Regions from separate parts of the Homo sapiens genome. Here region 2 is linked to region 1. Evidence: fine-mapped expression QTL. Tissue or cell type: aorta. Region 1 holds a variant in brackets; the other region holds the start of a gene. All regions are shown on one strand. Distances are between the middles of the regions.

The links. PIP is the estimated chance that this variant, and not a neighbour inherited with it, causes the effect.
Region 2: it holds the start of DOCK1, and the variant in region 1 is fine-mapped to the expression of DOCK1 in aorta (GTEx, PIP 0.98). The same link has a PIP of 0.9 or more in esophagus muscle.

What each region holds. Positions count from the first base shown.
Region 1 is chr10:127,448,373-127,453,926 of GRCh38, forward strand. It overlaps DOCK1 (dedicator of cytokinesis 1), which reads left to right. Exons shown (of 52, transcript NM_001290223.2): 52 at 2,960-4,144. The coding sequence ends at 3,055. Among named protein-coding and RNA genes, the nearest start is that of NPS, 98 kb to the right of the region's middle. The variant C/T (reference allele first, on the strand shown) is at 3,040.
Region 2 is chr10:126,901,988-126,907,541 of GRCh38, forward strand. It overlaps DOCK1 (dedicator of cytokinesis 1), which reads left to right and starts at 3,441. Exons shown (of 52, transcript NM_001290223.2): 1 at 3,441-3,576. The coding sequence starts at 3,531. It overlaps LOC105378550 (a long non-coding RNA gene), which reads right to left and starts at 3,391. Exons shown (of 2, transcript XR_946449.3): 1 at 2,573-3,391; 2 at 1-2,455. It overlaps LOC124900289 (a long non-coding RNA gene), which reads left to right and starts at 3,744. Exons shown (of 2, transcript XR_007062336.1): 1 at 3,744-5,554. RefSeq lists an enhancer at 4,462-5,210.

The DNA.
Region 1 (5,554 bases):
GCACCTCAGTTACCAGTTGACAGTTCTAGAAACATTCTTTTGAGATCCACCCCGTTCCTCTCCTGGTTCTCAAGGATGCTGTCAGGCGTCACTCATCCCTGCGGGTCCCAGCCCCATCCTCATGTCGGGCCCAGGCATGTGTGGAGGGCAGCATGAGTGGGATGGAGGCGGGCGAGCGATTGACTCAGCCACGGCGGGAACTTCTGCTTCTAGGCTCAGGCCTCCCCAGGCCATGTTATTCACAGCCTTTGACAATTAAATCAGTGGTGTCTGAAGGGTAAAATATCCCTCTTCATATGTGGACAGCTGGCCGTATTTTTTTTGCTATCCAGCCTTAGTGAAGTAATTATATGGCCGCAAAACTCCTGTAGAACATTGAAAACATGAGATTGTTGGGTGGCTCTGTTTTTTTCATAATGGTGAGACATGGTTTTTTTTTTTATTTTTCTTTAATAAACAATATAAATCCCACGTGCCATTTCTTTTTCTTTTTTTTTAATGGAGACTCGTTGACGGAGTGTTCCACAAGGTCATTACATCCCTTATGAGAGGAGTGGAAGAGAGAGGGTGTTTGTGTACAGCATACGTATTTCATCATTCCCTTTGTATCAGAAAACTAAACAAGCAGTCATCTTTAATATCAAAGAGGCAGATTGCTCTTCTGAGACCCAAGTGCCATTTAAACAGGCTCCCTCTCCCTAGAGACGCCTCGATGGGGAACCGGTCCTGGAGGAGGCACCAGGTTCCCCTGTGAAGAGGGCTTTCTGGCAGGCTGGAATGGTTTGTTGCACCACAGAAATGGAAGCCGGACCTTCCCCGGCCATTTCTAACTACTTGTGAGAGTAAAAGGAGATTCGGGGGGGTCTAACAAGAATATTGGGTTGCTTGGAGTATTGTTTCCCTAACAGCTTCGTTAATTGGTCACATTCTCTTCTCTCTATTTTATTGCAAAGGCAGGAATGTTCCCCCTAGTCTCCCTACACTAGTAAACTGAAAATTCTAAACTTAGAATTACAGCCAATTCCTCTTCTTGTTACAAATCAACTCCGGGGTAACATTTTATTGTCTCAATTTCTTGGATACACCATTGTGGGTTACTGATGCCACATACAGTTGATTAAGTAAGGGATAACATGGATTAGCTCTCTCTCAATTGATAAAGGGCGTGTGAATTCAATTAGATTAATGACCCAGGTGTCTTTGGTCTTTGTTTCTTGTTTAATTTACTTGCAGCCTGAGTGCATGCTCAGGTGACACGCTGGTGGTTAGTATGTCATCATTAGGCAGAAGCGGTTGCATTTCCTGGGGTGCCTCCCTTTGCACAGGCCCTGAGAGCTGTTCTAGGATAATGATCATCCATCTGCCATGATGGGGGTGTGATCAATATCCTCCTGTCACTCTCATTGATCAGCCTCAGGCTTGTAGGCAACTCTGTCTTTAGTTGTTGCCACTAAGCTGTCATTTCTTTCCAAATGGCTCTTCCTGTCAGTAATCTGAGCTTACTGAGTTTATCACCATTAATCATTTTGCTTAATGGTGATAAACTTTTGACATGCTCATACTTGGCATAGAGGTCATTTGCAGCGCTGTGTTGGTATCAGGCTGTGTTAGTGTGGTCCTTACCTGCTCCTCATTGGCCTATCAGTGAGTGTGGCTTTCACATGTAAACAAACAGTTTCATCAGACCTCAAAATAGATGTCTCTTTTAACGGTTCTAACCAACCTTAAAAAGACTTAATTGTTGTTTTACCTTCCTTAATATAAGGTCATACACTCATAGGACATCTTTATATCAGCTTTACTTTTCCACATTTATTCTCCTCTCTGTGTTAAGCATTAGGTCATTTTTGTATTTACTAGTCTGTGAATCAGGAGGAAATCTGGGCGATGAGTGAGAGACTACTGCGTCACTGTCTATCCTTGAAAACCTCTTTTCTCACATTCAGCTAAATGCAAACCCACACTGAGAGGCTGATAAAAATCCACTCTTACCCTTAAGTTAGACGATAGTGTTCTGTGATTTCATTCTGGTTCTTCTGCCTGTGGCATGCTCCCACTTACCCTGGTCTGTTCACTTCTTCATTCATTTGTTTACTTACCTGTTCATTTCTTCATTTATCCACTGACTCGTTTATTCACTCATTCATTTATTCACTCATTCATCCATTTTTCTATTCGATTGACCCATATTTCTAGAGAGTCTCCTGCACATCAGGTGTGTGTGATGGGCATGAGGGTCCCAAAAGCAATAGGGTGCAGCTGCCCTCAGTCATAACACTCCAGCCAGGTCCATCAGCAAGGGGTTTGCTATTATCTTCACATTGGAAATTAATGTTCTTTTTTGGAATCTAAAGTAATATATGCCCATGAGCTGAAGCCAGCCAGCCAGCCACCTGTTTCTGTGAATAGTTTTCTTGGAACACAGCCACACCCCTTTCTGTACACACTGTCAATGACCGCTTTTCGGCCACACCAGTGGCATTGAGTGGCTGCAACAGAGACCGTGTGGCCTGCCAAAAAGCTGGAAATATGTACTGTCTAGCCCTTTCCAGGAGAAGCTTGCTAACCTTTGCCCGAAGCTCAGAAAGCAAAAGAAGGTCTCTCATCTCACCCCTGGAGAGTGCCTCTAAGGACTTATTTATCCCTTAGACAATAGATGGATAACTTGGTCGATAGCATCTAGATTTAAAAAGGCCACGCAAAGGGCAATGGTACCTCTCAGGGGCTGTGCAGACGGTGGGAGAGTGCTCAGAGGCGTCAGAAAGGCCCAGGCCCATAGCAGCCCAGTCTTGAGCCTAGTAGACCTGCCAGCCCCAAGTCGGACAGGATGGAGCCCAACTCATGTGGGGAGGATGGTTCCGGCTGAGTGGCTGTGCCAGGTCAGACCCCACCTGGAGACGGTGTCTTTTCTGTCAGGACATCAGTTATGTGACATCTTCCCCATCCTCATGTTTTTTAGCATCTGCCACCTCCACTGCCCAGCAAAACTCCGCCTCCTCCCCCTCCAAAGACAACTCGCAAGCAGGCATCGGTGGACTC[C/T]GGGATCGTGCAGTGACGTCGCAAGCCTCTCTGGAAAGAGTGTGCTGCCCCTCCCCATCTCCATGCCCTCTCCTTCTGTGTCCCCTGAGTCTGCTGTTTACCTCATTGGGCCTGTGATGTTAACATTTCGTGCGACTGCTTTTTCTTCAAAGGAGTTCAGTTCTCACCATGGAGTGAGTGGCCTTTAGCGTCATGGAGCAAGGTGGGTCTGGGAGGTAGATATGGGTCCGGGATGTGCTATCGTAGTTATCAGAGTTGGGGGCCTCTGAGTGTGTCTGGCTCTGAGAGAGTCTGAGTCTTGCCCAAACATTCTTTCTTTTTGTGCCAAATGACTTGCATTTGCAAAGAGCTCAATTGCTCTGAGCTCAGCCAAGTAGGAGAGGCTAGGCCATCACTCTTAGGAAGCTGTGTAGTGATGATGTATAAGAATCCTCCTCACTGTCATGGGATGTTGTATCCAGCCCCTCCTTGTTCCAGCCGGTGGTGTGACTTCGTTGGTTGAGGTGTGTCTCCAACCTACATCAGACCATGAAGTTCAACCCCTCCAGGGAAGCTCCTGATTTCCCCTGCATAATTGAAAATAGGATATTTCTCAGCTATTGAACAGTTACTAATTTATGGGGTGGAAACAGCATTAAGAATACTGAATCAAATGGAAAAACAAATGAATACAGGAAGATAAGTGTTCGTTCTTTTCTGAAAAAGAGTATGTGTACCACAAGAGCTGGTTTTAATTGGGTGAATTGTTTTTGTCCTCATTCTGTACAGAAATTTGTATATATGATGGTTCTTAGAACTTGTTTTAATTTTTGTGGTCCTTCCGTTTATTATAATAGGCGTCCACCAATGATTATCCATATGTGTTCTTAATTTTTAACTGCTGGAAGTGTTAAAACACACACACACACACACACACATTTTTTTTTTGAGAACTCCAAAGTCCTGAAAATTTTGGTGGACAATGATTTTTAAAAAACTAACTTTGTATAACCTAATATTTGTATTCTCTCATCTATATTTTTTTATTCACTATAATCATGATACTCTTCTAATAGACTTAAAAGTTAATCATTGACAACGAAAAATAAAATGTTATTTTAAAAGACTCACAGTGTCTGACCAATTATGTTTTCATCCTTGATTGTAAAATACAGACGCTGCTGTTTCTGTTCTGCTATGTTAAAGTGCTTGGTGACACACATTTATATATGCACCTCTTCCTCCAACATTGTTTTTAATCCTCTCTGTTAATTGTGTCTGATCTGGAGCCCAGATGGGAAGTGCCCGTGTCCCGTGCATGGCTGCATGTCCTGATAGACAGGAGCTAAGCAGAGACCAGCTGAGTGCTTCCCCATCACCAAAGCCAGAGGGCTGTGGGGCTGCAGATCATGTGGGCCTCTTTTCAGCTGCTAATTTAAGAAAGGGCTTTGGTTAATGGGTGTGTGATTTAGCTGTAGAGGTCTGGACATGGAGAGCTTTCTCCAGGGCCTATCTGGCTGGATCTGGGGTGGCAAGAAACAAGGAAGGCAGGGGGTTCTCTTCTCAATGGACGGGGCTCTCACCTCTGCTCCTGCCAGACGTGTGGAAGCCATAAGGATGTGCCCTCTGCCCATCTAACCCGGCCTAGAAGGAGGCTGCTGTGGAGCCCAGGAAGCTGGGAGGCTCTTCCTCCTACTCAGGTGCTGTCCCCAGCGTATTCATGCTTGTAAATATCCAGTCCACCCCTGAGAAACTGTAGGCCTGTGTGAATGTGGGATTTTTTTCTTCAAGAATCTTTACTGTTTCAACTGTTGCACCAAGATAAATATTCATCTTCTGTCGAGTGTGTGAGAAACTGAATATTATCCACAACCCTAGAAATCATCGAATGGGCACACCCATGTAGGCGACCACGGAGAGCCCAGCCTGGGGACAGGTTGTTTTTGGGCAGTCTGTGCCTCACATTGTATAAGCGGCCACCAGAAACGGAAAGAATAGGCCGGGCGCAGTGGCTCACACCTGTAATCCCAGCACTTTGGGAGGCTGAGGCGGGCGGATCAGCTGAGGTCAGGAGTTCAAGACCAGCCTGGCCAACACGGTGAAACCCCATCTCTACTAAAAATACAAAAATTGGCCGGGCATGGTGGCAAGCGCCTGCCATCCGGTAGGCTGAGGCAGGAGAATTGTTTGAACCTGGGAGGCAGAGGTTGCAGTAGCTGAGATTGCACCATTGCACTCCAGCCTGGGCGACAAGAGCGAGAAATCTGTCTCCGTCTCTATCTCCATCTATAAAAATAAAATAAAAGTATTTATTTTTATAAATATAATTGTATTTATAAAAAATAAAAATTATAAAATTTATAAAATGATATAAAATATAATTGTATTTATAAAAAAATAAAAACACAGAAAGAATAGTGCCTGGCCCTGTGATAAATGATGGTTTTCTTGTGGAATGACGTGTGGGCTCCTGCTCTTCCCCCATCTACCGGGTTAATCCTCGCGCTGCACAACCCTGGCTGGAATCCCCGCCCCA
Region 2 (5,554 bases), 550 kb before region 1:
TTCTCATCTCTCCCCACCGACTGAGAAACATGCCCCATTGACTCACTGTGCCTTCTGGTACCTCCACCAGGCAAGATTTTGCTGAATTTACCTCCTGAATTTGCAGTGCACATGTGTGAAATTTTTTGGAATTAAAAAAATTAAAACTGTACTTTTCAAGATTTAAAACTGTAATATTGATTGTGTTCTTCATGGCCCCAAAGCAAGATTCTGTTGTATCTTGGAGGAGGGGGGTCACTACTCTGAAATCCCAGTGATGGGCAGCACTGAGCAACTGAGAGCCTCAGCATTCTTGGGCTTGTTCACACCCACAAGCTTGGCACAGATCCAAGTCCTGCAAGATGCCTGGGAGGGCAACTGAGACCTGTGGCCCAGCCACATTGACTCAGGAGGTAAAAATGTCAACAGGCCACAACCTCCAGGGCTCCTGGAATTGGAGACGAAGCCAGTTCTGAGCTTATGCAACCATAGGACAGTGAGAGAGGGCCATGGACTCGATTTAGAGCCACAAGATGAGAGCACTGCTGGAGCACCGTGGGGATGCTGACAAATCTTCTCAGGGCTTCAAGGACCGTGGCTACAGGTACATCTCAGCCAAACTTGGGCACATGTTGCAATCAAGGGACTGAAGCTACAACCACCTGGCCCGTGGTCCACCTGGAGTTTTGTTTTGTTTGTTTTTGAGATGGAGTCTCACTCTGTCACCCAGGCAGGAGTGCAGCGGTGCGATCTTGCTTCACTGCAATCTCCACCTCCTGGGTTCAAACAATTCTCCTGCCTCAGCCTCCTGAGTAGCTGGGACTACAGGTATGCGCACCCACGCCCAGCTAATTTTTGTATTTTTAGTACAGACAGGGTTTCTACTAAAACCCTGGTTGGCCAGGCTGACCTCGAGCTCCTGACCTCAAGTGATCTGCCTGCCTCAGCCTCCCAAAATGCTGGCTGGGATTACAAGCATGGGCCACTGTGCCCGGCCCCACCTGGAGTTTTAAAATTCTGATTTATAAATTTATTATATGACAGTCTACCAAAAGTATGCAAATCCGGCACTACACTTATTTATGCATTCAGTGAGTCACCTTTATCTGAGTGCAAGTGGCAACTGTTCTAGAAAATGGGAACCATGAGGTTATCAAAGAACCTGGAGGTAGGGTCAGATGAGGAAGCACATCATTATGATGTCTTACACATGCAGTCATGTCTCCTCTTATAATCCTAAGACTCACCTGTGAGATTCCTATTACAGCCCCTAGTTTACATGTAGGAATATCAGAACCCCAAGGTTTAGAAACAGAACGGCCAGAAACAGGAGGAGGATGGCCATGCAGCTGGGCGTGGCAAGGCCAGGCCTCCCAAGTCTGCATGACTCTTAAGCTCCTGGCCATTCGTTACAGCACGCCATCTCCAATGCAGAATCACACCAACAGAACTGAAACTGCACATTAAAGAGAAGGCGAGTGTCACCAAAATCTGTTTCCCAGGCTTCTTTGCAGAATTCCAAATTCCTAGCACGACCAATAAGGCCCTTCTTCTACCTCTGCAGCCTCAATTTATGTCACTTTCCTGTTGTTCCCTATGCTTCGGCCATCCTGGCCTTTCTGTGCTCTGAAGGAGTGGTGCTCCTTCCTAAACCAGGGCCTTTTCACGTGCTGTTCCCACTCCAGTTCACCTAGCTGGTTTCTGCTTATCCTTAAAGTCTGGGTTTATCTTATTTCCTCAAGGGAGGCCTCCCTGCTCTGGAGCAGGTCAGGCCACCATGTCCTTTACCGTAGAGCACCCTACTTGTCCTGGACAGCACCTTCACAGATGCTTCTCCTTCAAGGGGTCAGAGTCACCAGGCCACCACTACAGCGCCTGAGCCCCGGAGGTTTCTGATTTCCACAGAAAGCTTCAAGTGCATGCTGTGTGTGAGTGAGCCTGGCCACTTCCTCTGTGGGACTTCAGTTCCTTATCAGTAAAACAGAGCCCGTGGCTTTCCATGAATGTGGGGTTGACTTACCAGAATGCTCAGGTCCCACGTTATCCTCTTGAACGCAGCAGCTTTCCTCTAACCCACGAAAATGGAAAAGCTCCTGTGCCATTCCCAAATACTTATTTAATCTGCATTCTGGGTGGCCCCTAGGGCAGGTGACGGGCATTCTCTACCGCAGGATGGTGCCCCACCTGGTCCTCCCCAGGCCCTGTGGCCATCCTGGCCACCTCCCTGTGGGCTCTCCCAGCCCTGCTGTTCAGCACTGTCCCTACCTCACAGAGGTAGGGACCTCTTTTTCTTACCTTCTTCCTTTTCTTACCTTCGTTCCTCCAATCCCTGACGGCCCCCAGACCTACTGTAGTTGTCTCTGTGTCTTCGGAGAGAAGACACCCCATTAATGTGCCATGAAACCAAATTTATTCCATTTAAAGGGCTGCCTTCATTCGGAGGCTTTGTCCATGTCTTGGTTTTAACCTCTCTTTTCTGAAATTACAGTAAAAATAAATAGGTGTGTGTTGCTTTAACTTTTCCCTTGGAGAAATCTGAAGCCCCCACCTTTTACTGTCATGGGAAACACCAGGGCCTGAGAAGAACTCCCACCTCGGGCGAGGATGCCGTTCCTGAGCCCCACGCGTGGCCTGGGCTTTCCTTTCCCTACTTCTCTCTTCCCCCGACTTCAGCAGATCCTGAGTCCCACAACTATTCTAGCATTAGCTTCTGCAAGCCCAGCTGGGCTGAGGTTTCTGCGGCTGCTTCCTCTTGGTCTCTCTGGAAAACTCCACTCATTCAGCACCCAAGCAAGAGGTCACCTGTCTGGAACGCACTCCCTCGGCAGCGCTGTGCCACCTCTTTCCACCCCATTTGAGTGGCCGGCACTTACCTGTGCTGTTTGTTACCTGACGTGTCCCTTCTCCCACCTACCAGGCAGTTGGTGCGGCGCTCCCAGCACACTCGGGCAATGAGTGGGCAGGCGCTCAGGTAACGTTTGTCGAATGAATGAATGAGCCACGTGCTCAGGAGGACCCTTTCCAGAGCCTCTGCTGGTTTGTTCTGCTCCGGGACTCTCCACCAGGGAGAAATCCGAGCTGGGGACCTCGCACCACCAGGCTCCGGCCTAAGCCCGCGCCTTGCAAGCCGCCCGTTTCCTACCTCCCGTAGAAACCCCCCGTCCGTCCCGCCCCCCTAAGGGCGCACCCCTCTCACGGCGTGAGCGCCAGCCCCGGGAGCTCCAGGAACTCAGGAGAACCCCGCGGGGGTGCCCGGGTGCGGAGCGCGGGGCTGGGCGCACTGGGACAGAGGAAGGGGAGCCCCGGCGACCGCGGGGTCGGGGCCCAGGGTCCGCGCCGAGGGCGGGCGCAGAGCCCGCGGCCGTCCCGCCTCCCGCCGGCGCTCCCGGCCTTTCCCATCCGGCCCGCGACGCTCCGCCCGCCCCGTCCCACATGACGCCGCCTCCGCCGCAAACTTTTTCCTCCCCATCCTGTCGCGGCTCGAAAGGAATGGAAAATGGCGGCCTAGACGCGGAGTTTCCTGCCCGACCCGCGGCGGCTCCGGCGGCGCCATGACGCGCTGGGTGCCCACCAAGCGCGAGGAGAAGTACGGCGTGGGTGAGCAGCGCCGCCGCCGCCGCGCCTCTCGCCCCAAGCCCAGGCTCCGGCGGGGCGGGTGTGCCGGGCGCCTGTTGCCGCCGCCCCGAGCGGCCGCCGGGCCGGGGAGAGGCGCTTCCGCCCGCGCCCGCGCCGCCGCCCCGCTCGCAATGCCCGGCGACCCCGGCCGCCCCGCGCCCCCGGCGGCGTCAGCTCCAGCCCCGGGGATGCGGGTCGGGAACACGAGGGGGTGGGGTGGGAATGGGGGCGGGCGCGTCCCTCCCTAGGGTGTCCCCTCCGACGCCCGCTCCTCTGGACCTCTGCCGTGGAGCCCCCCGGGCTACCCCCAACTCCCCGGCCCCGGCCGCTGCTATCTGCGCGGCTGGGCCCGTCAGGGAAGCCCAGGGGTCACTGTCTCGCGGCGGCTTCTGCTTCTTGGATGAACTTGCGTCCCGCGTCCGGGCTCTGGGTGGGCGGGCTCAGGTCGGCGCGGTCCCAGCGGATAATTCCGCCCTTTCCCGGCGGGGAGGAGGGGGCGCGACCTGGGTGGCCAGCGCCCCTTGCCCCTCGGCGGTCTCGCTGGGGACCGTGTGGGACCTTGGAGAGAAGGCGAGCGGCCGAGCGCCCCAGTGGCCCCAGGCCTGGAGACCCTTCCGGGAGAGCGGGGGCCTGTTTTTGCTCCGCGGCTCTTTGTCGCTTCCGAGGGGGGATGGAAGGAGTCGGGTTGCAAGTTTACATTTCGGACCCGAGTGCGCATTCCTGAGAGGGAGGCTTTCCCTTGCGGCTGAATAGACGGGCCCGTCCGCGTGGGACCCGCATCCTTGCGCCCCGGGGACCCGCAGCCGGTCGCCGAGGCCTGCGGACGCCCACCTCTTCGTGATCTGCGCGCCTGGTGTCGGGACTGGGCCGTGGCTACTCTCCTGCTCTCCCGGGTCCGGGATCTTCCCAGTTGGTTTTCGGGCTTGCTATTCCCCGTCCCACCATCCACAGACATCCTTGACCGCCTGCCTCATCCAGGCCACTCGACCCGACTGGGAAGACCTTTGGTGGTCTCGCCTCCCACAGCCCAGGCTGTGTCCTCCAAGGGCACCGTCTCAGCAGCAGCCCCGCGCCCATTCTGTGCCTGGCCCGTGCTGGACCTGCCCGACCCTCTGCTGGTGTGGTTCGAATCCTGGCTCTCTGACTTTTGGGAAGCGCCCTGGCAGCCCTTGTCCCCGGAGCGCTCTCCTTTCTGTGAACAGTTGCTTCTCTCTGCTGTCAATGACTTACAGTATGCCCTGACCACGGAGCCAGCTGGACAGTGGTCACGGGGACAGTCCTGGGACAGCCCTGGGTCCTACCGGGCCTGCACTTAGCTTGTTCCACATGCTGGGAGGCATAGGGGGCCTCCTTGCTTCAGGACCATTATGACTGAGCTTCCTCCCCATCTCCCCATTTTGCAGATGAGGAAACTGAGGCCCAGACACATTCACAAAAGTGCAGGAGAGCTCATCTGACTGCAGACTCAGTGTGTAACCTGCACCCTGTGCACCACCTAATGGATTCAGTCTGGGGCACTTGGCACGGGCCTTCAGTCTGCATCAGAGGCGAGAGGTTCGGGGTGGATATTCCACCTGAGAATGCTTGGGTTGTGGCGACAGTGGGGGTCCCTGCGGGGGTAGTGTGTAGAGGAGAGAGCTGAGGACTGACTCCCAGGGAACCTAGCACCAGCACACGCAGAGAGAGAGGAAGAGGTGGATAGGCAGGAGAGGCAGGAGGCTGGCAGAGGAGCAGGCATCCCATAGCCCTGGCCCTGCTGAGGAAGCAACTTAGGTGCCCATGGCCAGGGTGCAGTAGTGGCCATTGGGGGTGTAGTGGGGGCCATCGGGGTGCAGTGGGGGCCATCACTGCTCCCATTCTACAGAGGCAAGGAAGAGGTGGATTGCTTGCCTGAGGTCACATCACCAGTAAGTGGTGCCTCCTGGGTGTGAAGTGTGGCCGCCCTGGGTTCAGCTGCCAC